Homo sapiens: one gene and its partners. The protein of the gene in region 7 purifies or fractionates together with the protein of the main gene of each other region. This does not show direct contact. Each region holds a gene or a part of one and is shown on either strand. Other genes may lie near its edges. The genes, in order: TMEM33, KDSR, UBAC2, TPM1, AMFR, TGFBR1 and SLC44A3.

What was found.
Region 1: the proteins of SLC44A3 (region 7) and TMEM33 purify together in Homo sapiens (affinity purification with mass spectrometry; one large-scale study listed by BioGRID and IntAct). This does not show direct contact.
Region 2: the proteins of SLC44A3 (region 7) and KDSR purify together in Homo sapiens (affinity purification with mass spectrometry; one large-scale study listed by BioGRID and IntAct). This does not show direct contact.
Region 3: the proteins of SLC44A3 (region 7) and UBAC2 purify together in Homo sapiens (affinity purification with mass spectrometry; one large-scale study listed by BioGRID and IntAct). This does not show direct contact.
Region 4: the proteins of SLC44A3 (region 7) and TPM1 purify together in Homo sapiens (affinity purification with mass spectrometry; one large-scale study listed by BioGRID and IntAct). This does not show direct contact.
Region 5: the proteins of SLC44A3 (region 7) and AMFR purify together in Homo sapiens (affinity purification with mass spectrometry; one large-scale study listed by BioGRID and IntAct). This does not show direct contact.
Region 6: the proteins of SLC44A3 (region 7) and TGFBR1 purify together in Homo sapiens (affinity purification with mass spectrometry; one large-scale study listed by BioGRID and IntAct). This does not show direct contact.

The regions. Positions count from the first base shown.
Region 1 is NC_000004.12:41,938,429-41,941,928, reverse strand, and holds part of TMEM33 (transmembrane protein 33), read right to left. Parts: intron 3,328-3,500; coding exon 3,233-3,327; intron 2,734-3,232; coding exon 2,546-2,733; intron 1-2,545. UniProt on the Homo sapiens protein: Acts as a regulator of the tubular endoplasmic reticulum (ER) network by modulating intracellular calcium homeostasis. Mechanistically, stimulates PKD2 calcium-dependent activity. Suppresses the RTN3/4-induced formation of the ER tubules.
Region 2 is NC_000018.10:63,332,707-63,336,206, forward strand, and holds part of KDSR (3-ketodihydrosphingosine reductase), read right to left. Parts: intron 2,653-3,500; coding exon 2,551-2,652; intron 1-2,550.
Region 3 is NC_000013.11:99,336,854-99,340,353, reverse strand, and holds part of UBAC2 (ubiquitin-associated domain-containing protein 2 isoform 1 precursor), read right to left. Parts: intron 35-3,500; coding exon 1-34. UniProt on the Homo sapiens protein: Restricts trafficking of FAF2 from the endoplasmic reticulum to lipid droplets.
Region 4 is NC_000015.10:63,056,247-63,059,746, reverse strand, and holds part of TPM1 (tropomyosin alpha-1 chain), read right to left. Parts: intron 2,763-3,500; coding exon 2,629-2,762; intron 185-2,628; coding exon 67-184; intron 1-66. UniProt on the Homo sapiens protein: Binds to actin filaments in muscle and non-muscle cells. Plays a central role, in association with the troponin complex, in the calcium dependent regulation of vertebrate striated muscle contraction.
Region 5 is NC_000016.10:56,405,046-56,408,545, forward strand, and holds part of AMFR (E3 ubiquitin-protein ligase AMFR), read right to left. Parts: intron 3,072-3,500; coding exon 2,919-3,071; intron 200-2,918; coding exon 159-199; intron 1-158. UniProt on the Homo sapiens protein: E3 ubiquitin-protein ligase that mediates the polyubiquitination of lysine and cysteine residues on target proteins, such as CD3D, CYP3A4, CFTR, INSIG1, SOAT2/ACAT2 and APOB for proteasomal degradation.
Region 6 is NC_000009.12:99,146,613-99,150,112, reverse strand, and holds part of TGFBR1 (TGF-beta receptor type-1 isoform 1 precursor), read right to left. Parts: intron 2,460-3,500; coding exon 2,329-2,459; intron 934-2,328; coding exon 808-933; 3' UTR 1-807. UniProt on the Homo sapiens protein: Transmembrane serine/threonine kinase forming with the TGF-beta type II serine/threonine kinase receptor, TGFBR2, the non-promiscuous receptor for the TGF-beta cytokines TGFB1, TGFB2 and TGFB3.
Region 7 is NC_000001.11:94,823,357-94,826,856, reverse strand, and holds part of SLC44A3 (choline transporter-like protein 3), read right to left. Parts: intron 2,365-3,500; coding exon 2,222-2,364; intron 1,025-2,221; exon of another isoform or gene 915-1,024; intron 1-914.

The DNA of each region.
Region 1 (3,500 bases), on a different chromosome or scaffold from region 7:
AGATTCATAATCTTAGTCTTCAACATTACTCTTAAACTATTAATACAATGTATTTAGAAAAGATAAGAGGTGAAATGCCCTATCTGTTATTAATCAAGCAAGGACAAAATATCACTTTTATAAGAAGAAGGATCAGAACGCAAATCTGTAATATTACTTTGGGCCCGCTTTTATTTATTACCATATCACTTTAATAATCAGATTAGCATTTGCTGCCAATTACTAGTTTATGTTATTCCCACTGTTTACTACATTCCCTTTGTAAGAATTTAAGGAATATGAAATCCTTAATCTTCAACATTCCCAGGAAAGAGGGGCTACCAAATAACCAACTGTATAAAAAGGCAGAAAGGTTTTCTTCACCAGTCATGAGTCTCATTTGGCAAGACCTCAGGATTCACTCAACAAAACTTACTGAGTGCCTGATCTGTGTGAGGCACTGTTCCCAAAGTTATTGACGTATTCAGTTTACCCTACATTGAAACACATTTTCTGTCATTTCTATTTCTCCCTCCAAAGAAATTTTAAGCTACTAAAAGGCATGACCAAAAATCTCTACATAACTTCCCGTTATAGCTCAGAAAGGCTAGAATTTTAACATTGGTGACTGCAAAGCACTTCAATCAACAGAGGCTGGTCAAGCCAATAATATGCCAAACAAATGTGATTATCATTTACAGTTGTAGTATAGTAATCATTTAATGAGTTTTACCTAAAAATAAACCAATACAAATTATGATGGGACATTACAGACTCATGCATTGAAACAGGAAAAATTTTATCCTTACATTTCAAACTACCCACATTATCTCAGTGAAGTGAGTAATTTAAAGGGAATCTCCATATACTGAATATTTAAATGAAATTACCAGGTTTACCCACATACAGAAAGAAATATTTTTAATGTATACTTAAGTATTACTCACCCACTAACTGTAGATAAGGTAGAGCTTTTAAGTTAGAAAGACTTTTTCAGCATTACTACTTACTAGCCAATGTGTGGGAAGTGAATACTGACAATCAGCAAATCAGCATCTTTATTAAAAATATACCACAACAATTTTTTTCAGAGTGCTACAAAGATTAAATGTCAAGTTCTTTTTTTTTTTTTTTTTTTTTTTGAGAAGGAGTCTCGCTCTGTCGCCCAGGCTAGAGTGCAGTGGCACAATCTCAGTTCACTGCAACCTCCACTCCAGGGTTCAAACGATTCTCCTGCCTCAGCCTCCCGAGCAGCTGGGACTACAGGCACATGCCACCATGCCCAGCTAATTTTTTGTATTTTTAGTAGAGATGGGGTTTCGCCATATTAGCCAGGATGGTCTCAATCTCCTGACCTCATGATCCGCCCACCTCAGCCTCCCAAAGTGCCACCGCACGTGAGCCACCGCGCCTGGCCTAAATTCAAGTTCTTATACTGGCAAAATAGGTGCTCAGGAAATTTCGGTTTCCTCCTATTTCTTTTCCTTAAGACTTATAAAAATCTATTTAAAAATTTGATACTTCATGAGCATAGGTATCTAAATAGGTAATATTCAGTCTCAGAGGAATATTTTATTGTGCTTTACATAACATACAGATGTATCATAAATATTCAAAAGCTCTTAGACCAGCACTTCTCAATGCACAAAATGATTTGCAGAGATAATCTACAGGAAAAAAAACAACCACAAATTTAAGTTTAAAAAACCCTACTAACTCTCTTAGTTTCACAACACACGTTAGAATACCAAAGCCACTATAGTAAAGAACCCTATTTAAAAATGTTTGACCTGGCTGGGCGTGATGGCTCACGCCTATAATCCCAGCACTTTGGGAGGCAGAGGCAGGTGGCCTGGGCAACAGAGCAAGACTCTGTCTCAAAAAAAAAAAAAAAAAAAAAAAAGAAAGTTTAACCTAGTGTTCACTATAGAACCTCTTCCCCATTTTTCCCCTCCTTTATGGACTACCCAGTATCATCCCACAACACACCTTTGAAATGTGAAAACATACAAATTCCAAATGAATTATTTCTCATTAGCTTCACGGATTATCCATGTGTGTCCTTATTTTCTACTCTATACACAGCAAATATTAATTTCTTTGTATTGATTATCTCATTACCTGCTTAAATAAGTTGTTTCTTGGTTAAATTCCATTTGTATCTAGTTCACTGGGGTTAAGATGGAAAGAGCTGAGGACCTCTCTTTTTTAAAGCAAGACATCTGGACACTTTGCCAAAAACGTGAATTAAATGAAAAAAATGTAAATATTAAAGTAAGTTCTGCGTAAGGTTGTGCTTCGAAGGGGAATTTGAAAATATCCATTCTAATAGGGAAGCTTACAAGAGGCAAGAACAAAGATAGTTTAAAATTCCTAAATCAGCTCTTCAAAGTTTAGATTTCACATTTTAAAGTCAGAAATTCTTACACTAAACATATCTTCATTCAAATGAAGTGCCGAGAACAAACCCAGGCTTCATGGAATGCCTTCATTGCTGAAATAATCAGAAGAGATCTCCTATATGCTTAGTTGGCAATTTCATTGTTAACAAGGTAGAAAAGGATACTTGTAACTGGATAGGAATTTACAAAGATGAGTGAATACAACAGGTAGTGGCAGCTGTCCTCTAACAAAGCCTGGGCCAGGAATGCTCTGCTTAACTGGAAGTGTGGTAATCTTTGATGCAGCCTCAGAGCACTGGTAAGAGCATTTGCCAGCAAAGCACGTTGGTAAAAGCTTGCTGCTTCATGCAACCTGCAAATTACCAGAGGAGAGGTTATCATGAGACATAAACAACTGCAGTGTCTCTTCCTCCTTTGTGAATTGCATCATAATTGCACAACACCTAAATCACTTGTCAATAGAAAAAAATTACATGAACTTATTCTACCGTTTTAATAGCTTCACTTCATATATATGCCCAACTGAATTTCTTATAATCAATTTATAAAATTGAATTTTATAAAGCAGGACCTTCCTGTCAAGTAATAAGTAAAAATGAAAAAAACATGAACTTATCTCATTCCCACACATCAATTTTTCCTTGGATTTTCAATGTGTTAGTTTCACAAAGCACAAGATATAAAATATTCCTCTGATAATGTTATTAGGTTGTTAGTACCTGAAGGCTGGAACTTGTATTTTATTTGTCCCTAAACCCTTTACAGGTTAATAAGTCTTACACCTAAAAGGCACTCCATATAAACTGACTCAACAATTGAATATCAAAGGCAGCAATATGTATAATACATACCCAAGAAGAGGCAGAACAAACAGAGCAGAGCAGTAAACTGTGAACAAGCGAGAAAGCCACATTGCCGTGTCCAGTTTATTGGTCATCATGAATTGCTAAATTTAAAAAGAAAAATACTGTAAGCTATGCCTGCAAATCATGTTTTTAAGCATCAAGACTGTGTGGTTTTTATGTCTACTCAAAATATTTTAATCTTCCTCCATTTGTTTTTTTAGATCATTAGGTGAAAACTCTAAGGCAATTACATGTTTCATGTATATGCTTAATG
Region 2 (3,500 bases), on a different chromosome or scaffold from region 7:
CTGTAGTCCAAGCTGCTGGGGAGGCTGAGGCAGGAGAATGGTGTGAACCCAGGAGGCAGAGCGTGCAGTGAGCTGAGATCGTGCCACTGCACTTCAGCCTGGGTGACAGAGCAAGACTCCGTCTCAAAAAAAAAAAAAAAAAAAAAAGAGAATAGAAAAATCCCTTTGTTTTTTTCCCTACACCCTCAGAGCACTGAAGCCAGTCCTTGGATCTTCCGGAAAAAACAATATTTAAGGTGAGACCTGAAGGATTAGAAGTTGGCAGGACACAGAGAAGATTCCAAAAAGAAGAAGATGGGTAAAGAAAGAAAGAAAAAAAAGAGCCTGGAAAGGTACGTGGGGTAGGAGATCAGGTGGTTTATGGCATGCGATGGAAATTTTTTTAATTTTTAAATCCTTTTTAGAGACAGGGTCTTGCTCTGTCACCCAGGCTGGAGTGCAGGAGTATGATCACAGCTCACTGTAGCTTCAGACTTCTGGACTCAAGCAGAAGTCTCCCAGTTGCTAGGAATACAGGTACACACCACCACGCCTGGCTTTCTTTTCTTTTACATTTTTTTGTAGAGACAGGGTCTCACTATGTTGCCCAGGCTGATCTCAAACTCCTGAGCTCAAGCGATCCTCCTGACTTGGCCTCCCAAAGTGCTGAGATTATAGGCATGAGCCACCATACTCAGGTGCAATGGAATTTTTAAAGCTTTATCCTGATGGTATCAAGGAGTCATTGAATGTTTTCATGCAATGTATAGTTGCAGTTTAGAAACAACTGGTGTGGAAAATGTGAGGGTACACTCAAACGCATCCAGGGGGCCTGAGCAGGGGGTTGCAGACCATAGTGGTTGCAGGGACTGTGCTCCTCCCTCAGGAGCAGCTGCCACCTGTGCTTGCTGATGACTGCCAGGTAAGAATGCAGACTCTGTGCAGCTAAACCTTCTGATTTTCCAAGAAAAGTCTGAAATCTGGACCTTTTATATAAAACCTAATTTTAAAACTATTTTAAAATCTTAAACACACACACTCACACCAGATGGACCCAACAAAACTGCTTTACAGGCCCATGGGAATCGTTTACAACCTCTGGCTCAAAAAGTGTGTAACTCAAGCAGGGGGCCTGCTGCGGCAACCCAGGCCTGGGCTCCAGAAGCACTGCCAGAATTGCAGAGAATGGAAGAATGTGAAGAACTGAGTGACAAGGATGACAATGATCTCTGACGTGAGGGACAGAAGCAGGGGAGTCCAGGACAACACGCCAGGTGTGAGCCACCATGCCAGCCCAAAAATTAAAACATAAAAGAATTCATGCATTTGTTCAGCTCAGGGATTCTGGAGTTCCTACTAAGTGCCAGGCGCTGGCTGTTAGGGGTACAACGGCAAACAAGAGGTGTGGGCCTGGTCCTCAAAGAGCTTACATCTAACACAGTGTCAACCTCTAAGAGAATGGCAAAGACAGTAGGTACATTACAGAATGAAAAGAAAAGAGGGCTTGGGAAAGACCCTGAAGAAAACCAACAACTAAGTCATTTATATAAGTCTGAATGTGGTTGACTGCACAGAATTTAGTACTTGTTAACAACTATCCCATGGCTTTGTCTTTCCAGAGCATTCCCTCTATTGTAACCCCTACTTCATTACACTGCACTACTATCTTTTTTTTTTTTTTTGAGACAGAGTTTTGCCCTTGTAGCCTAGGCTGGAGTGCAGTGGCTTGATCTCGGCTCACTGCAACCTCCACCTCCCGGGTTCAAGTAATTCTCCTACCTCAACCTCCCGAGTAGCTGGGATTACAGGCGTCCGCCACCATGCCCAGCTAATTTTTGTGTTTTTAGTAGAAACAGTTTCACCATCTTGGCCAGGCTGGTCTCAAACTCCTGATCTCAAGTGATCTACCCACCTCAGCCTCTCAAAGTGCTGGGATTACAGGCGTGAGCCACCGCGCCCGGACTACTATCACCTTTTTGGTCAGTGCATTCCACTTGACTGTATGCCCCTGAAGCTGGAGAGGTCGCCTTCCATCTGATTCCCCATGAGCAAGTACAGTGCCTAGCACACCAATGAAACACTGTGTATCTTGGACAAAATAATACATTCTATAAGCGAAGCAACTGTTTAATCCATGATTCGTGTCTCACTAAATTTAGCTGTGTGTGACCTGATTCACCTAGAAAAGGTTTTCTAGTCTAATATCCCAGTACTTTTTAAGCAAGGCTACCCCTTACTCTAGAGGAGTATTCCATTTTCAAAACACATTGGAGCAGTGGTTCTTAGGTGAAAATCCAGGTTAACACCTCAACAGCAGATACGGTGTTTTATTTCTCTATCTGCAAGGCCCGGCACTGAAGACTTCTTGCCATTCTAAATTCCTGAAGTTATATCTTTAACCTATTTACTCATTCCTGGTGGAGGAAGAGGAAAAGTTGATAGCTCCATAAAAATACATTGTCAAATAAAGTTACTTAGTTTTCCCTTAACCTCTTCTCATCAAGGTTTGATGAAAGGCAGTTTTTCTCTTGTCCATCGGCCTGTCTGATTGCTAGCCTAGGCAGAGCTTACCTGCTGGAGCCCCTCAGTAATAGAAGTTACTGGAGCCATCCCACAGGTCAGGGCCGAGAGCATGTACCCATCTGAGCCAAGGGAACTGTTGAAATTTCCTTGCTAAAAGAGAAGAAAAAGAAGAGAAAGAGGGAATCCTAGTAATGTGGACAGAAATCAGTCGGACACATCAGAAACAGTGGAGTGTGCTCGTTCACTTTAAGTGAGATAAAATGGTCACAAAGCATTGATCAGCACTCAGAAATGGACGCACGGCCTTGGCAGATGGCAGTTCTCAACAAGTGAGTCCACGGACCCCTGCGGGCCCCCAAGGACAAATGATTGTCCTAATAACACTAAGACATTCATTGTCTTTTCCACAGTGTGTTGTATGGAAAATACAGTTTTGCCTCTGCAAAACTGCAGAGACATGGGCAAGAACCACGGGGTTCTTGCCAAACTGTACTAGGAGTCATTGTCACCTCTACTACCACACGCACTCGCAGTAATAAATAATACACAAAGAAAATACAAGTTCTAAAATTCTTTTAAAAATCAAAGTGTCAGTTTTGCTTTAAAATCCTCTTGATAAAGCAGGAAAATTCATCATTTTGTTCAATGGCAACCCTCGAGGACATGTCTTCTTAATACTCTGTGTGACAAATGAGAATGCGCCCAACGCGCTTCCGCAGCACTGCATTCCAGGGCGGGACAACTGCCTGGAACAAAAGTCCTTGTGCAGCTCCTGAAGTCAAGGGCTAAACTGCCACTTCTTTCATGGAGCATCATTTGTATTGTTTATTTATTTATTTTCGACAGAATCTCACTCTGTGGCCCAGGCTGGAATGCAGTGGTGTGATCTCTGCTCACTGCAACCTCTGCCTCCCAGGTTCAAGTGATTCTCCTGCCTCAGACTCCCAAGTAGCTGGGATTACAGGCATGCACCACCACACCCGGGTAATTTTTGTATT
Region 3 (3,500 bases), on a different chromosome or scaffold from region 7:
GGAACATTTTGCTGTCGTAGCACAGACCGGACATCTAGAAGAAAAACGTCCAATGTGATTGTTTAAATGTAGTATTATTTTAAAAAATGTACACGACTCAAAAATCAGCAGCCTCCAGACACTGCACACGGTATTTTTCTTAGTCATAGCAGTGTTAGGCAATAAGCAAAATCCTCTACCACACTGCAGAACACTAAGCAGTGCAAATCAACACAAAATTGAACTTAGTAAAACAAAATTGTTTTTTATTGAATTAGAAGAGCTAGCAAAATTCTAATCATTTAGTATTCAAAGTTCTGGTAAAAGATTGTCAAGACACTGTCTTCATTTTTTAAAAAGCCGTAAAAGATCTGATTATTGAAACACTTTCACACTGTACTGACTCTGCGGTTACCTTTGTTGGCAGATGGCCATCACAGAGACACCAGCAGAAAACAACTGCCATGTCTCAGCTGACCCAGTCACACGATCAATTTATCAGAGAATAAACACAATCTAAAATCTTGGTTTTTATTTACATAGTGTTTTAATCAGTTTTTCAACTACTGATTTTTCTAGACATTTAAAATCCTCACCAATATTAGTTCCATTTATAAACCAACCTTGTCTTCATCTTGAAGGTCATTTATAATGTATGGTTACAGAAGTCTCAAGGCTTCCTATGATTTTCTAGTTAAAAATGACTATGGCTATTCCTTTGTAAAAAAAAAAAAATCTTGATGTGAATTTGATTCTTAGGATTAGAAGATCAGATTAGAACATATTTGACAACTTTCTAATATGAGAAAAGTATACTTCAATGTTTAAAAATAAAATTTAAATTGATGAATTGGCAAGAATTCTTTGAGACTGTGCTACACACCAGGCACTGTTCTGGGAACTTAGAATACAGCAAAGAACAAGATAAGCAAGGCCCCACTCTCACAGGGCTTATAGCAGTCAATGTGGAGAACAGGCAGTAATCAAGTCAACACATAAAACTATTTCTGGCAAGTTCTGGGAAGGAAATAAAGTGACATGGGGCACGAACCTACTCTGGGGGCAGCGGGGGACATCAGGAGAGCCCTCAGAGAAAGTGATACTTGAGCGAAGATCTTAAGGATGATGCGGTGCCCGTGACTTGATGAACTGGGGAAATAACATTTTGGGCAGAGAAAGCAGCAGATGCTGCGCAGCCCGAGCTTGGGAGTGTCTATTAGATATCTTGGGGGGCTACTGAGTGGGCAGGTGGCTATGTAATTCTAGAACTCAAGGAAAAGGTCGAGATAAGGATTTCAGAGTCACTGGATATGATATGACATTTAGGGTAACAGGACTAGAGGAGATAAAATGGGGGGGAGGAGGAGACACAGCAGAAGAGAGAACAGGACTAAGGACTGAATCCAGGAGTGCACAAATATTCTATGGACAGACAGAGTAGGAAACGCCAGTAAGGAAATCTGAGACAGGGCTGCCAGTGAAGAGAAGGGAAATAGAGTTTAGTTATCACTGAAGCTAAGAAGTGTTTTAAAATAGGGATGGTCAGCTATATCTAATGCAGCTGATAAGTAAGACAGAACTAGCCACTGGATGTTGCAAATGGAGGTGTTTGATAAACAAGGTGTTTACAAGAACAGTTTTGGTACCAAAGACAGACTGTAGTAGGCTGAAGAGTGAATGGTGGACAACTTCTGGTTTCAAATAATTTCTGTGCCCCTTTACTCAAAAATAGTACAAGACAAAGAAAATGAAAACAGAAACAAACTCCAAGGTCCATGAAACCAGAAACTAATCCTGAACCATGCTAACAAAATAGAAAGCTTATCAAGTGATTATAAACCACTCTGCATATAAGCAGCATATAAGTCCAAATGCCTGCAGAGAGTCCTGTGGGACTCAGAAAAGCACAGGGACTAGAGCAAGCTTGTTCAACCTGAGGCCTGTGGGCCACATGTGGCCCAGGACAGCTTTCAATGTGGTCCAACACAAATTCATAAACTTTCTTAAAACATTACAAGGTTGGGCGCAGTGGCTCACACCTGTCATCCCTGCACTTTGGGAGGCCAAGGCGGGCGGATCACAAGAGGTCAGGAGTTTGAGACCAGCCTGGCCAACATGGTAAAAACCCGTCTCTACTAAAAATACAAAAATTAGCCGGGCGTGGTGGCACACACCTGTGGTCCCAGCTACTCAGGAGGCTGAAGCACAAGAATCGCTTGAACCTGGGTGGTGGAGGTTACAGTAAGTCGAGATTGTGCCGCTGCACTCCAGCCTGGGCGACACAGTGAGACTCTGTCTCAAAAAAAAAAAAAAAAAAAAAAAAAAAAGAAAAAAAGAAAAAAAGTTAGGAGATTTTTTTGCAATTTTTTTAAAGCTCATCAGCTATCTTCAGTGTTAGTGTATATTATGTGTGGCCCAAGACAATTCTTCTTCCAATGTGTCACAGAAGAGTTCAAAAGACTAGATACCCCTGGACTAGAGGGTCTAGGCCCTGTGGAAGGAGGAGAGAAGTAGAGGGTTACTTAAGTCTGGGTAAGAGGCACCCCAGTTCCTCCTCATGCTCCATGTACCCTTTCTCCCCTCCACAGAGAGAAGGGAAAAGCTGTGTAGGGCATGAACCAAGGAGGGTCCATGTGGGTTGGGAAGGCCAAGGCCTCTGCACAGGCAGATTATGTGCATCTCATGCGGCTGTCAGCATAGGGGTTCCAGAAGAAGACAACAGAGGGAATATGGGGGAAAGGATATTATATTTAAAGAGATAAACAGCTGAGAGTTTTCTAGAATAAAGAAAGAATATAAATCCTTAGGATGAAAGGGCAAGAGTCCCTAAAAGAATGCTAAAACGAAATTTACATCTAGATCCACTGTGGTGAAACAAAAGAAAGAAATCCTTAAAAGCAACCAGGGATAAAATACAGACTGTTTAGAAAGAAAAAATAAACTGTTAGCAAATAACAGCAAGAAAAACTGTAAGATAATTGGGAATAAATAAATAATATATATATAAGGCCTTGACAGAAAAAAAAGAAAAAGATAATAAGGGATATTTTTTCAAAACCAACCCTAGTGATAATAAAGATACCAGTTCCATGAATAGGAAGATGCAAAACTTTTAAGATACCAATTTTCATCAAATTAATACATAAATTAAATATCATTCAAAATAAAATCTTAACAGGGTGTTTTGTTGGAATGTAAATGCCAAGCCTCAAATTCATGCGGAATATTTAAGGTTTGCATTTTAAAAACACCATGTTGGGAGAAAGAAGCCAGACCCAAAGCCTGAAAACACGATTCCACTTCTGTGAATGAATGAACCTAAACCACACACTAAGCAGTAAAACGAGACAGGAAAGCGCAAAGATGATGACTATGTGTGCTAGGAGGGGTCACAGAAGGGAGGGAGAAAGAAGGGGAAGGGGTCACAGGAGGGAGGTGGGAAGGAGGAAGAGAGGTGGGAAGGAAGGGGGGCACCATGGGCTGCGGGGCTGGCCAGGCATGGTCTGTACCTGCATGGTGGA
Region 4 (3,500 bases), on a different chromosome or scaffold from region 7:
ATTGCTCCCTGGCTTCCTGAAGGCCACTGCTGGGTGTCCACAAGGCTTTGGGCCCCAGGATCTGACCTCTTCATATTTGCGGTCGGCATCTTCAGCAATGTGCTTGGCCTCTTTCAGTTGGATCTCCTGAATTTCCATTTTTTCTTCATCTTTTTGGGCTCGACTCTCAATGACTTTCATGCCTCTGAAAAGAAAGACAAGCAAGAAAACCCAAGATTTAGAGCTGAACTTCCCAAATGCACACTGCACTGCTGTGGCTTGTGAGGCTTAGTGTAAGTGGTAGACCAAAATAGAGCACAGAGCTACTTTTATTTTCCAAACCAGGAAACAACAATTTCCAGAGCTAAAGGTGGAAAAAAGAGACACATTTCTCTCTGTTCACTGTGAATGAACTCTCTCACTTTGAGTACTGATGAAACTATCAGGCATCTAACATTAATGATGACGAAAGGTACCACGTCAGGAATCTGTCTGAATCTTGGCAGTATGAAACCGGAAAAGCCAATATGCTTTACTATTAAAAAGATAATGAGATTTCTTGCCTTTCCTGTGGGAAGCCTCAGCTTGCACATGAACCAAAGCTAGAACAAAATCAAACTTATCTTTATATACCTCTTTCTACAAAGAATCTTCTTACCCTGCCACCCATAAACAAAAATATTAGACTTAATGTTAGATTTAATAAACTATTAAGTCCACAAAGAATGCTGATATTTGACCATTTCAGACAAGTAATAATGGCAATTTCTTATGGTTCAACTGAATGCATCAAATTAAGTTTTACCTATAATGGAACCCTTTCATGACAGCAATGCTGGGAGACAGGCCTGACACTGTCCTCTACACTGAGTGTATTAGGGTCCTATGGCATGGTGTATATTAGGGTCCTATAGCGTGGTGTAATGTTTCAGAAAAATACTAAATGACCTATGATATTTTACAGATATATGGAATAACAAGTCATGTAAAATGGAATTCATTTATCAAAATTTAAGTAGGCAGTATAAGTGAACCACTATTTTTTTATTTTTATTTTTTGAGACAGAGTCTCGCTCTGTCACCCAGGTTGGAGTGCGGTGGTGTGATCTTGGCTCACTGCAACCTCCACCTACTGGGTTCAAGCGATTCTTCTGCCTCAGCCTCCCGAGTAGCTGGGATTACAGGTGTGCACCACCACGCCTGGCTAAGTTTTCTATTTTTTAGTAGATTTAGGGGTTATGCCACGTTAGCCAGGCTGGTCTCGAATCCCTGGCCTCAAGTGATCTGCCCGCCTCGGCCCCCTAAAGTGCTGGGATTACAGGTGTGAGCCACCACATCTGGCCCACTATCTTTTGATGAAGCATTGGAATACAGTTGAGGAGATCTGGGTCGGAGTCTTGGCTTAGCCACAAATATGCTGTGAGCCTTGGTGCAAGTCACATCAGCCTCTGAGCCCTACTTTTCTCATTTGTAAAACTAAGGGACTAAATGATCCCCAAGTCCCCTTTACTCCGAAGTCTAACATTACCAGACTGCCTTTAAGGTACACTAACAAGTATATTTCAGAAAGAAGTCAGCCACAAAACTGCTCTTATGCGTACACTGTAAGATGCTTAGTCATCTTAAAGAAGTCCAAAATGCTTGGTTAGCGAAGAAACACTAAGCAGCGGTGAATAATGGCCTAAAAAGTTTAGCTAAAAATCTTCTTTAATCCTAAAGTCTGAAATCACTCTTTATACCTGGTACCTAGTGGTAGGGTCACTTCAAAGAGTAAGAAATGGACAAGATGACTGACTGCATTCACTTGCCCAGGTCACAGCACAGACAGATACACATTCAGTGCTCTGAGCCCCTTCATGCTATGCCATCCCTCAAGCGGCAGAACGCTCTCTCACCTCATGGAGTCTCTCTTGAAGTACTTCTATGCAATATGGCAAATCCTTACTTCCAACAGTTGAGCTTAAGGGAAAATGCCTTTTAGACCACACAAGGCTGTGCTGGTCTATACGAACCATGCTTTCCTTTACTACCACAAAGCTGAATCTGAGTAATAATTCAGCTACAGCCAGATTACAGTGGAGGTGGGCTCAGAACACACGAGCATCTGACTATTTGTGTGCATGTGTGTTGTGTATATTACTAAGACCAAGTCCAAAATATTTTACTTTTGCAGACCATGTTTCTGCTTTGTGTTTTTTCTTCCACCTATTTGTTAAGCTATTTTGACAACTGATAGTCCACAGTTCCTTTATTTACACCTAAGCCTCCTTGTATATTATAAAATAAAGTTACACTTTAAAAAATGCACAATTGCTCTGTGGTCAGTAGGAGTGAAAGGGCCAACTTGTATCCCTGACATTTCTCCTTTACATGTCTGTCTCCCTCATTAGATGGTGAGTTCTGTAAGGGCAGGAACAAGATCATCTTCTTCTTTGTAACCTTAGGGCTTAGGACAGTGCTTTGGACATAGTAGGTGTTTCACTAATGCTAAATGAACAAAACCAACCGAGTTATACCTGGGATCAATAGAGGAAATGATCCCACCACCAGGGGACTGAAAAATTCTTAAACCTCAAAGATCACAGGAGCCCTCCGGTTTATTCCACCAGGAAAGGCAGCTGCAAAAGATGGCTGATGAGGCATTCTCACCTCTCACTCTCATCTGCTGCCTTCTCAGCTTCCTCCAGCTTCTGCAAAGCTGTTGCCAGACGCTCCTGGGCACGATCCAACTCTTCCTCAACCAGCTGGATGCGTCTGTTCAGAGAAGCTACGTCGGCTTCAGCCTAGGTAGAGAGTGAAAAGCATTTCAGAGTTGGGGAGAAAGTGAGGGTGGTAGCTTCAGGAAATGGCTGGGACTGCAATGCTGATTTCAGATAGGAAGACTGTCTTGTGGTGAGCTACCTTTAAGTGCATTACAAGCCCTCATCAACTCTGGAGTTCTCGGACACATTTACACATTGATTTATACAGTGAACATCCATATTTGTGTATACACAAATCTATACACACAATTCTCATCAGACAGACAGATCATTAGCAAACGCTCTTTCACATGGTTCCTTTCTTCCGTAGATTTTTTTGTTTTGTTTTGTTTTGTTTTTGAGACAGGGTCTCGCTCTATCACCCAGGCTGGGGTGCAGTGGCACGATCTCAGCTCACTGCAAACTCCGCCTCCTGGATTCACGCCATTCTCCTGCCTCAGCCTCCCGAGTAGTTGGGACTACAGGCGCCCGCCACAACGCCCGGCTAATTTTTTTGTATTTTTAGTAGAGACGGGGTTTCACCGTGTTAGCCAGGATGGTCTCAATCTCCTGACCTCCTTATCCACCTGCCTTGGCCTCTCAAAGTGCTGGGATTACAGGCGTGAGCCACTGCGCCCGGCCCACTTCCGTAGAGTTCAACACCCTGGCTTTACTTGCCTGTTAAACAAGAGCGTCATCACGGCCACCTCACTCACTGGGGGCCTGAAGTGTGAACTGAGACAAGACTTACCCAGGCTCAGCCATGTAAGACAATAGCAG
Region 5 (3,500 bases), on a different chromosome or scaffold from region 7:
AATGAAGAGAGAAAACACCTTAGTAATTTACTGTTACTACTGAATTTGGTTTAACCATGTTGTAATTTAGTCCGATTTTTATATATTTCATACCTGCTACATCTTAAAATCAACTGTATGAGTAGGCCTCCATCACCTCCCTCCCCAATTTCACTCACCGTAAAATCACATGAGCAGTCCTCACTGTCACAAGAAGAGACTATAAAAAAGGATATTTTCTTTTTAGTAAAATGTAGCATTGCTCAGGCCAAACTTTTTATAAAATGATAAAAGACAAACATTTCTCAGTTCAATTAAAAAGCAGATTGTTCAAGTTTACCCATTATTTTATTTTCTCTGCTTCAAATTTCTGTAAAATATTTTTATGACCTAGAAACCCAACTTTTATTGAGGAAAAGTCCTGTTAATAGGTGACAACCAATTACACCTACCCCCCAGGAATCCCCCTACAATCTTGAGGTTTACCCTGGTAGTCTGACCATCAATTCTATTTCACACAGCATTAAGTCACTATCACTGATTACTTAGAAGGGTGATGCTGTAACTCCAAGTATAGTTCAGGTACTGCTATCCTAGACACGAGGACCTGCTCTCTCCCTAGTGCTTTGTGCACTCCCTTTGTCCACCAGCAGAAAAAAGAACGAAAGCAATCAAAAGCAAAATAAGGCCAGCCACATCACACCTTTAATCCCAGCACTTTGGGAGACCGAGGCAGGAGGATTGCTCAAGCTTAGGAGTTCAAAACCAGCCTGGGCAACATGGTGAAACCCCATCTCTACAAAAAATACAAAAATTAGGTGGGCATGGTGGCACGTGCCAGTAGTCCCAGCTACTTGGGAGGCAGAGGTGGAAGGATGGATTGAACCTGGGAGGTGGAGGCTGCAGTAAGCAGAGATCGCACCACAGCACTCCAGCCTGGGTGAGAGAGCCAGACCCCAGACCCTGTCAGAAGGGAAGGGGAAGGGGAAGAAGTGGAAGGGGAGAGGGGAGAGGGGAGGGGGGAGGGGAGGAGAGGGGAGAGAGAGGAGGGGGAGGGGGGAGAGGGGGGAGAGGGGGAGAGGGGGGAGGGGAGGGGGGAGAGGGGAGAGAGGAGAGGAGAGAGGAGAGGAGAGAGGAGAGGGGAGGAGAGGAGAGGGACAAAATAAGTCTCTCATGGCTTTTTTTTTTTTTTTTGTAGAGACAAGGTCTTGCTATGTTGGCTAGGCTGGTCTTGAAGGGTATTTTTTTTATTACAGAAATTGACGGCCAGGTACAGTGGCTCACACCTGTAATCCCAGCACTTTGGGAGGTCGAGGCAGGCCGACTGCTTGATCTCAGGAGTTCAAGACCAGCCTGGTAACATGGCAAAACCCCATCTCTACAAAAAAATCAAAAATTAGCCAGGCATGGTGGTTCATGCCTGTGGTCCCAGCTACTAAGGAAATGAGAGGATCACTTGAGCCCACAAGGTGGAAGTTGCAGTAAGCAACTGCACTCCAGCCCGGGCAACAGAGTGACACCTTGTCTCAAAAAAAAAAAAAAAAAAAAGATATTTTTCATTAAGAAAAAAAGTCCTCTTAATCTAGTAGAATAAAACTATTACATTATTTATGTTTTAGATTAAATTCCCATTTGTAAGTGAAAAATATTTTACAGGAGAGAGAAACACTATGAATGTAAGAAATGATTTAGTTTAAAATATCAAATCTGTAATATGATAAATTATCTTAAAAGAATAAACAGTAACAAGCTAAAATAAAAGTATATACTATAGTATGAGCTGACGGGCCTAAGTTAAATGTGCTTATTTTTAGGTATACCCTTTTCAAAGTTTGGATAATATTATATTAGTTGAAAGTTAGAGAATCAAAAAAAGGCAAACATAAGTATCATTCTAACTTTGCAATAAATCTAAAGCAAATAAGTCAGTGTAAATGGATTTTTCAACAGATTTTCTGTCAAGACGAAATACGGTTGTATATTTTTCATATACAGAAGTATTCACCTAAGATTACATATCTTATTATTTATATTAGGACTATTGTATTTTAATTACAATATTATAATATGATAATTAACATTATGTATTTAAATGTTTCTTTTCTAATTTTACTTACACTACTAAATGTACTCAAAAATGAATGCTATCAAACAGAAATAAACTTTAACTCTGCTCTACCAAATTCCCAATGAGTAGTTCAAATGTAGTGTTTTGATATTAGCCAATTAGCTTCAGTTTATCTAATATCTCATTTTTTAATTAATAATACTAATTATGGGTAAGATAAAAGTATTTTGCCTTTGGCCTGAAGAAAAGGCAAATATAGCCATTAAATATAAGGACATACAAACAATTTTTATTTCTTTTTTTTTTTGAGATGGAGTCTCGCTCTGTCACCCAGGCTGGAGTGCAGTGGCGCAATGTCTGCTCACTGCAACCTCCGCCTCCCGGGTTCAAGCAATTCTCCTGCCTCAGCTTCCCAAGCAGGTGGGACTACAGACGTGCGCCACCACGCCCAACTAATTTTTTTTTTGTATTTTTAGTAGAGACAGGGTTTCACCATATTGGCCAGGCTGGAGAATTTTTATTTCTACTGAACAGAAATTGGTATTTTCAGAAAGGTTTAAAAGAGTGAAAAATTTTTAAATCTTAAAATATTCATGAATAGACCAGATTTTTCCTTCAAAATGATGAGTACAGTTTATTCATTATTTTGTAAAATCTTTATACCCTACGTAAAGAAAGAGTTACATAAAATACCACACAAAAGCATTCAGTACCAGTACCCAACACACAAAAAGGAACTGAAATGCTTGTTAAAATGAAAGACCAAATATCCACCTGTCATTTCATGGGTGAAAATAACTTGTCAAACATCCAGCTTCCTTGAAAACAGACAGAAATACAATCTGAGCAAGTCCTGCATCCAGTATCTCACCTCTGCAGCCATGAAAGCCAAGGTGTGCATTCCGTGGGTGTAGCCGGTGATGGAGCAGACGGCCGCCAGTCCACAGCAGGAAAGCAGCATGGCAACCAACAGGGACAGGACTCGACCGTGGCTGCTCATCGGCGTGGTGGGCGAGAAGGAAAGCTGAAATGCACACAGTAGGAAACTGCTCATTCTTCTTCATGGAAGTGTTAAACTTCACTGAGAAATTCAAGGTCAATCTTGGCTTCTCTGCTTAGGGTTCTGTGCTAAGCACAGAAAAGCATCCCATTACTATATGGTCCTATTCTCCAATAACCCAAATATGAGCATGAGGTGATATTTAGAGATCCGTGTCATTTAATTTACTGAGTATAACAATATGCATTATATTTTCATCCCTTACTCTCAAAGATCCTCCTAGCACTGGGATTATAAACCTCTAGAAGCAATGTTCCGAGGGTATACAACTCTCTCCTCTCACCTTCAACAGGACTCAGGACAGTGCCTGTTCTGTTCTGTTTCTTTCTCAATCTTGCTCTAGTCCTCCTCTCTGAAATTGGCATTCCTAGTCTATTAGGGCTAGCACAATTG
Region 6 (3,500 bases), on a different chromosome or scaffold from region 7:
GAATACCAAATGACATACCACAAAAACCCTTCCAAAAACAAAACAGAAAAAGTTTGGGTTACCCAGATAAATAAGCTTTTTGAATTCAAACACTATAGGTTTTAACATAGAGACTTTCAGCAATTCTACTCATTTCCATTAGAAAGACACAGAAGTGGCACTTACTGGTATAGTACAATCCCATTTTGAAGGCATGTAATGTTCTGAATAAGTGAAAGAACAATAATAGTATACAAAATACAATTGCATGAATTATGTTCCTCACTACTATATGAGGTCATTTTTAGACTCAAGATAAGAGTTTTATAAGTGTTAGTTTTAAGATCCTGAAAAACTATAGAACAGTACATTCAAAGTCTGAATCAAGGAAACTCTAGTGGTTCAGAATCCTCTGAGAATGTACTAACCAGGAGTAAATCACTTTCTTTAGTAATAAGACATGTTTCATTGTAATTCAGCAATCCAACTCCTTTGCCCTTAAAGATGATCTCCAGCACAGCAGAGTTACCTAAAGTTAAGACCAGCAATCATCTTTTTAAAAAACAAGTTTTGTTAATAAAAAATAAAGGTAGACTACACATTTTCTGTCCTGGGAAAGAAGCGTTCATAGTGCACAGAAAGGACCCACATGGCTGTTTCCTGGGTCCAAAGAAATCCTGGGAAGTTTTTAATTGACTTTATTACACTGCTGCAAAAGGAAGCAATATCCTTCTGTTCCCTCTCAGTGAGGTAGAACAATTGACCTCCCAAATTAAAACCCAGGAGCAGATCTGAAGAAAAAAGGAGAGTTCAGGCAAAGCTGTAGAATTACATTTTGATGCCTTCCTGTTGACTGAGTTGCGATAATGTTTTCTTAATCCGCAATGCTGTAAGCCTAGCTGCTCCATTGGCATACCAACATTCTCTCATAATTTTAGCCATTACTCTCAAGGCCTACAAGAAAATATAAAAAAAAAAATTAATGCATGCACCATTTTCCATTGGTCTGGATAAGAATTTTTACGTGTAAATTTTCTTTTTAAATGACATATACACTTGTTATTGTTTAAGCATTATTTGTAATAGCAAATGAGTAGAAATTACATAAATTTCCATCAATAGGGTACTGGTGCCAGTGCTGGAAAGCAGGTGGACAAAGAGTGACTCATTTAGCAAACCTGAAAAGGCCGAATCCTAAACCAGAGCTGGGCAAAGCAAAGAAGAAATCTGACCTCACACTGAAATTTTAAGTTTGTACTTTGAAGTATTCACATCAAATTTTTCTTTCTTTTTTTTTTTTTTGAGACAGGGTCTCACTCTGCCGCCCAAAGTGGAATGCAATGGCATGCCCTCAGCTCACTGCAGCCTTGACCTCCCAGGCTCCAGCAATCCTCCCACTTCAGCCTCCCAAGTAGATCAAATTTCTAAAAGACAAAATCTAGCAGCACTCTCATTTATTAAACTATGTCACATGCAAATTCCTTAAGCATGCTGAAATACATTTTATTTATTTGGGCCTGGAGATGTGATTTTGTTGGAGGTAGCAAGCTCTCTTGCTTATCAGAGGTTCTGCTGAGTCCTACAATAGTTTAAGACGTAAAATCAACTACTGAACTGAACAGCTTTTTATAGCCTTTTTAAGCTACAAATCTTCAAACCTGGAGGAATATGCTCTGCTTCACCAATATTGTAATAGTAACAGCTAGCAATTAAGGAGAGGTTAAATAAAATTCATCTTACGAATCTTTAAATTTACAATTACAAAAACGTTTCTAAAACTTTTTGTTAGAGCTGAAGTTGAGCAGCTCAGATACTGCTGGAAAAAAGCATTTTCCCTAAATTCCTGGTTAACGGTTATCTGGGCAATCAGATGAATAAAACGGAAAATCATTTGAAACACCTTTGTAATCACCTTATCTGAGTTCCTCACCTTGCAAAGGGATATTAAAGTCCAGAGAACTAAAGGGATTTGTTCAGAGTCAGACCCTTGAAATGGTAGCCAGGCTGGTCTAGAATACAGGGCTCCTCATTCATGTCCGGTAACTGTCTAGTGTTCTGGGTTGCCCCGGCTGAAGGGAGGCATTCATTTAAAAATATGTGCCTTAGTTCGCCCGGCAGATCTAAACTATGTTCTGATACACTAAAGGCCACTGCAAATGTTCCATGGCCCTTTCAATGTGCTTACAATTGAATATGAAAACCAAATTATTCTGTTTTTAAACATTGGTTTGACTGCTATGAAAAAGAAAATTCTTAAAGAAAAGTTTTCCTTAAAGAAAAGTAGCAAACTTTTGCTTACTAAGCAGAAGCAGTTTAGAAAATTGCCTAATATCAAAAAGAAATACTCACTTCACAGCTCTGCCATCTGTTTGGGATATTTGGCCTTAACTTCTGTTCACAAACAACTTTTCTCATTTCTTCAACTGATGGGTCAGAAGGTACAAGATCATAATAAGGCAGTTGGTAATCTTCATGAATTCCTGTATCAGTTTAAAAAAAATTAAATTTTGATGAATTTATTCAGCTAATGCCAAGGCATTAAAAGATCACCTGAGAGACCTATTACAGTGTTTCATTACTAAAGTAGGTATGTGGAACAGAGATTACAGCTTTCTCTATCTCATCCACATCTGTATCCACAAGCCACTTCCCTGAGTTGATATTCCACCCACACCTTGAAACTAAGTATTGCCATGAGATCAATAAAGCCTATTTGAAATGACAGTAAACTATGAGCTGTGATGACCAGATTGACATTTTCCCCTAGAACCCTATTGTGCAGCAAATGAGATTCTATTCTGTAAGTGCACAGGCTCTCACTTGCACAGGGATATATATACCCTATCAGTGAGACTTGAATCTTATGAGGCAAGTTTAAGGTGCCAAGTCCCTTTCTCTACTTGCATCTGTCAATAATATATCCTATTTACTACAATACAGAGAAATACTCTGTCCCTCACTGCTTCAAAAACCTAAGGCACTAGGTCTCAGCCAAGTCTAGGTCCCCAAGCCTAAGAGACTGTTTCCTGAGTAAACATTAAAAGTACTCCATCTAAAAAGCTAGAAGTTAAAACAAACTAACTCTAGAATACAACACAATGGTAACATAATTGTATTCTGTGTATGTAACTGTAACTATCAAGTTGGAGAAAATAACCACAATCTCAAAGAAAAAAAATAAGTTTGACACCCAGGTACATGCTAGAAACAGCTTCCTAGGTGAGCCTCTCAAGCAGCTGTCCATTCTAAAGAACTATATTCCAATATAACAAGGGGTTGGGTTCTGATGAGTCTCCAGATTCAAATGGAAACAGGAAGAGAATACACTAGGCTAGAGCTGTGCATGTGCACACCATGGCACTGTCCCCTCCCAAAGGTTTCATCGCCTTTGTTTTCTCTGGCACTCGGTGACATCCTGTTTCAGATAATGGACTGTACATAATTTCATTCAATTAAAAAAAGAAGACAATTCTTGAACAACTTCTGCTCATGACAAACTACTGGGGGAGAGGAGAGCAATT
Region 7 (3,500 bases):
AGAGGAAGACCCCGTAGGCTGCCCTTTATGGGAGAGACCTTGAGAAGGGGTCCCAGAAGGTTTTTTTCCCTCCTGTTGGGGATGGGAGAAAGGTGGTGCAACAGGAGATGAGGAACAGATTTCCTGGGTGTGTGATATACATATTTTTGAAGAAGTTTAAAAATTGTGTTAAAATATACATAAAATTTACCATCTGAATCTTTCTTTTTTTTTTTTTTTGAGACAGAGTCTCGCTCTGTCACCCAGGCTGGAGTGCAATGACACTGCCACCTCTGCCTCCCAGGTTCAAGTGATTCTCCTGCATCAGCCTCCTGAGTAGCTGGGACTACTGGTGCCTGCCACCACACCTGGCTAATTTTTGTATTTCTAGTAGAGACAGGGTTTCACCATGTTGGCCAGGCTGGTCTTGAACTCCTGACCCTGTGGATCTGCCCGCCTTGGCCTTCCAAACTGTTGGGATTACAGGCATGAGCCACTGCACCAGCCCCATCTGAATCTTTCTAAGTGTACAGTGACATTAGTACATTCACGTTGTTGGGCTATCATCACCACCATCCATTCACAGAACTCATCTTCCCAAACTGAAATCTGTACCCATTAAACAATAGGTTCCCACCCTCCTTTCCTCCAGCCCTTTGCAATCGCCATTTTACTTTCTGTTTCTAGGAATCTGACTACTTTACATATCTCATGTAAGTGGAATCATACAATGTTTGTATTTTTGTGACTGGTTTATTTCACTTGGCATGACATCCTCAGGGTTCATCCCTGTTGTAGTATGTGTCAGAATTTCCTTCCTTTTTAATATTTCATTGTAATATACATATCACATTTTGATTATCCATTCAACCATTGATGGACACTTGAGTTGCTTCTACCTTTTGGCTTTTGAGAATAATGGAATGTATACTCACTTCAACCAGGAATGACTGTTTGTTGACACTGCATTATGAACACAATGTGAAATGGGAGCACATGGGCATCTAAGTCGCCCTTCCTCCTCCTGTCTTCTTTGTAAGTGGCTCTATGAGTGCAGGAGAAAATGCTCCGTAATTAGTCCATGCCCAGAAAGAGCAAGAGCCCCCTTAGGAGCAACACTCAGGAGGATAAGAGGCTTAGTCTGAGATTTGTATTTGGTGACTCCAAACTTATATTCAGGATTTATTTAGATCCTTAGGATTTCTCTTCTAGGAGCTACTTTTATTATTGAGTCCTAAAAATCCGTTTTTGGCTGGGTGTGGTGGCTCACGGCTGTAATCCCAGCACTTTGGGAGGCTGAGGTGACAGATCACAAGGTCAGGAGATGGAGGCCATCCTGGCTAACACAGTGAAACCCCGTCTCTACTAAAAATACAAAAATTAGCCAGGCCTGGTGGCGGGCGCCTGCAGTCCCAGCTACTTGGGAAGCTGAGGCAAGAGAATCTCTTGAACCCGGGAGGCAGAGCTTGCAGTGAGCTGAGATCTCCCCACTGCACTCCAGCCTGTGTGACAGAATGAGAGTCTGTCTCAAAAAAATAAAAAATAAAAATAAAACATCATTTTTTTGTTCTGTCATGTGAAGCAAGAGCTAAAATCTTAAAAATTCTTACAAGGCAGTCTCCATCTTAGAAGTTCATGGTCAGGGATTTCTCTCCCCTCTAGGGAATTCCCATCTCTTCTCTCCCCTTTCTGTTTCCCTGTGGGAGGTGGGGTAAGGGAGTAGGGGGAAGAATGCAACACCACAGTGCCATAGCTGGGGCAGGGGTGGGACACAGGTCCCCAGTGTTCCAGGTGGCATTCGGGTATTTCCACGTAGAAACAATGTGTGGATGATGTAGGGTTCAAACATATACGATTGGTAACATGATTCTGATTCATTATGGAGAATAATAGCAGCAATTAACGTTTATTATACTTTAGCTCATGCAGTGTCTCATGAATCCTTAAAACAACCTTGTGAGGTAGGTATAATAACTAGTTTAGAGAGATGAAAACTAGGCTTTGAGAGGTTAAGTACTCTGCCCAAGATCACACAGCTGAAAAGTAGCATGGGCTGAATTTGAACTTAGGACTATGATTCTAAAACTTGTACTCTTACCTGTACTATATACACAGCCTTCCTTTTTATAAAATAGGCTGACAGAGTTTTGAATGGGAAAAGTTTCCAGGCTCCAAATGATGAATTTATACAAAGTTTTGAGGTACAGTTCCTTACAGACTGGGGACTTATTTAGATACTTACTTTTTTAGGGTCATGTCCTGCCCTGAAAGAGGGGCCCCTTCCACGGGGGAGTTCTTCTTGCCACACATGTTGCCAAAGCTGTCATAGCCAAAGAGGAGTCTTCCCGCGGCTCCAGCCACCACCGAGTAGCCCATGATAAACACCTGGCAAAAACGGGGGCATATGAGAGCCTGGCCAAAGGGCTGAGCGCACAGTGCCCCACACCCCTGCAGATGCTGATATAAAACGGAGCCTGGTGGAACGTGAAGCTCTCCAGCATCATAGCGCTTTGCTCCGTCAGTAACAGTGTCAGCAACTCCCATCTATCAGCATCCTGCTCCTCTGCTACTTATACATTTAGGTAGAGAGAGAATCTAATCCACTGAAACAGATTTCTCTCCATTTTCTTACCTCTGTGCTTTTTAACCTTTTCCTTAAGAGTCTATCATTTTTCTTTTTGGTCTAACTTTACTGGGACAATTCAATTTTTCTTCCCTTGATGTTCTTGCTTAATTTAACTGCTTCAGGGCTATGCTAATTCTTTCCCCAAGGTTTTTTTTTTTTCTACTACTTTTTTTGTTTTTCTTTTCTTACTTTTAAGGGATTCTGCAGAAGCAACACAGTTGATATGTACTGAAACACTGTTCACCAATCTGCAAATAGTGTTTTGGAGTAACTGCTTAAGACATACAAAATAAAGGACCACAGGAATTCTGTTGGACAAGAACATCTTGCAATCTATCATCATTTTTATCCACTCTCATAGTGAATGTGGAATATTTGAAATTTCAGTTCAAACAACTGTGCCATTAATACATACTGACAGGCTCTCTGCCAAGATTGAATATGTATCTTCCCATAATGCAAACTTAGTAAGTTTCCCAGTACTGTATGCAATATATAGGATACCATTTAATACTCTATATTGACAAGTTCATTCCAGGAGAACAGATATAATACACTATTCATTAATATATAGTATTGATACCTTATGCTGCAAAGGTACATTGTCCTAAATTCAAATACCTTCTAGACATTCTGCATTTATTACTAATTTAGAAATCAAAATAACAAACATTCTTCAAGTGCCCAGTGTGTTCTTGAGACTTTCTTACTGGGAGACACAGGAATGACCAGAACCTACTCCTTGCCTCCAGGAACCCAGCCTAGAAGGCAAGCAGGACTTACGGGCTGCAGACCTCCTGGGGAAGGAGGCTCCCTGTCCTTTCCCACTCTCCAAGATCCTCCTAAGTCTAACTGGTCAGATTCTAGAATGAATGGGTCACCTTTGCTAGTAGTG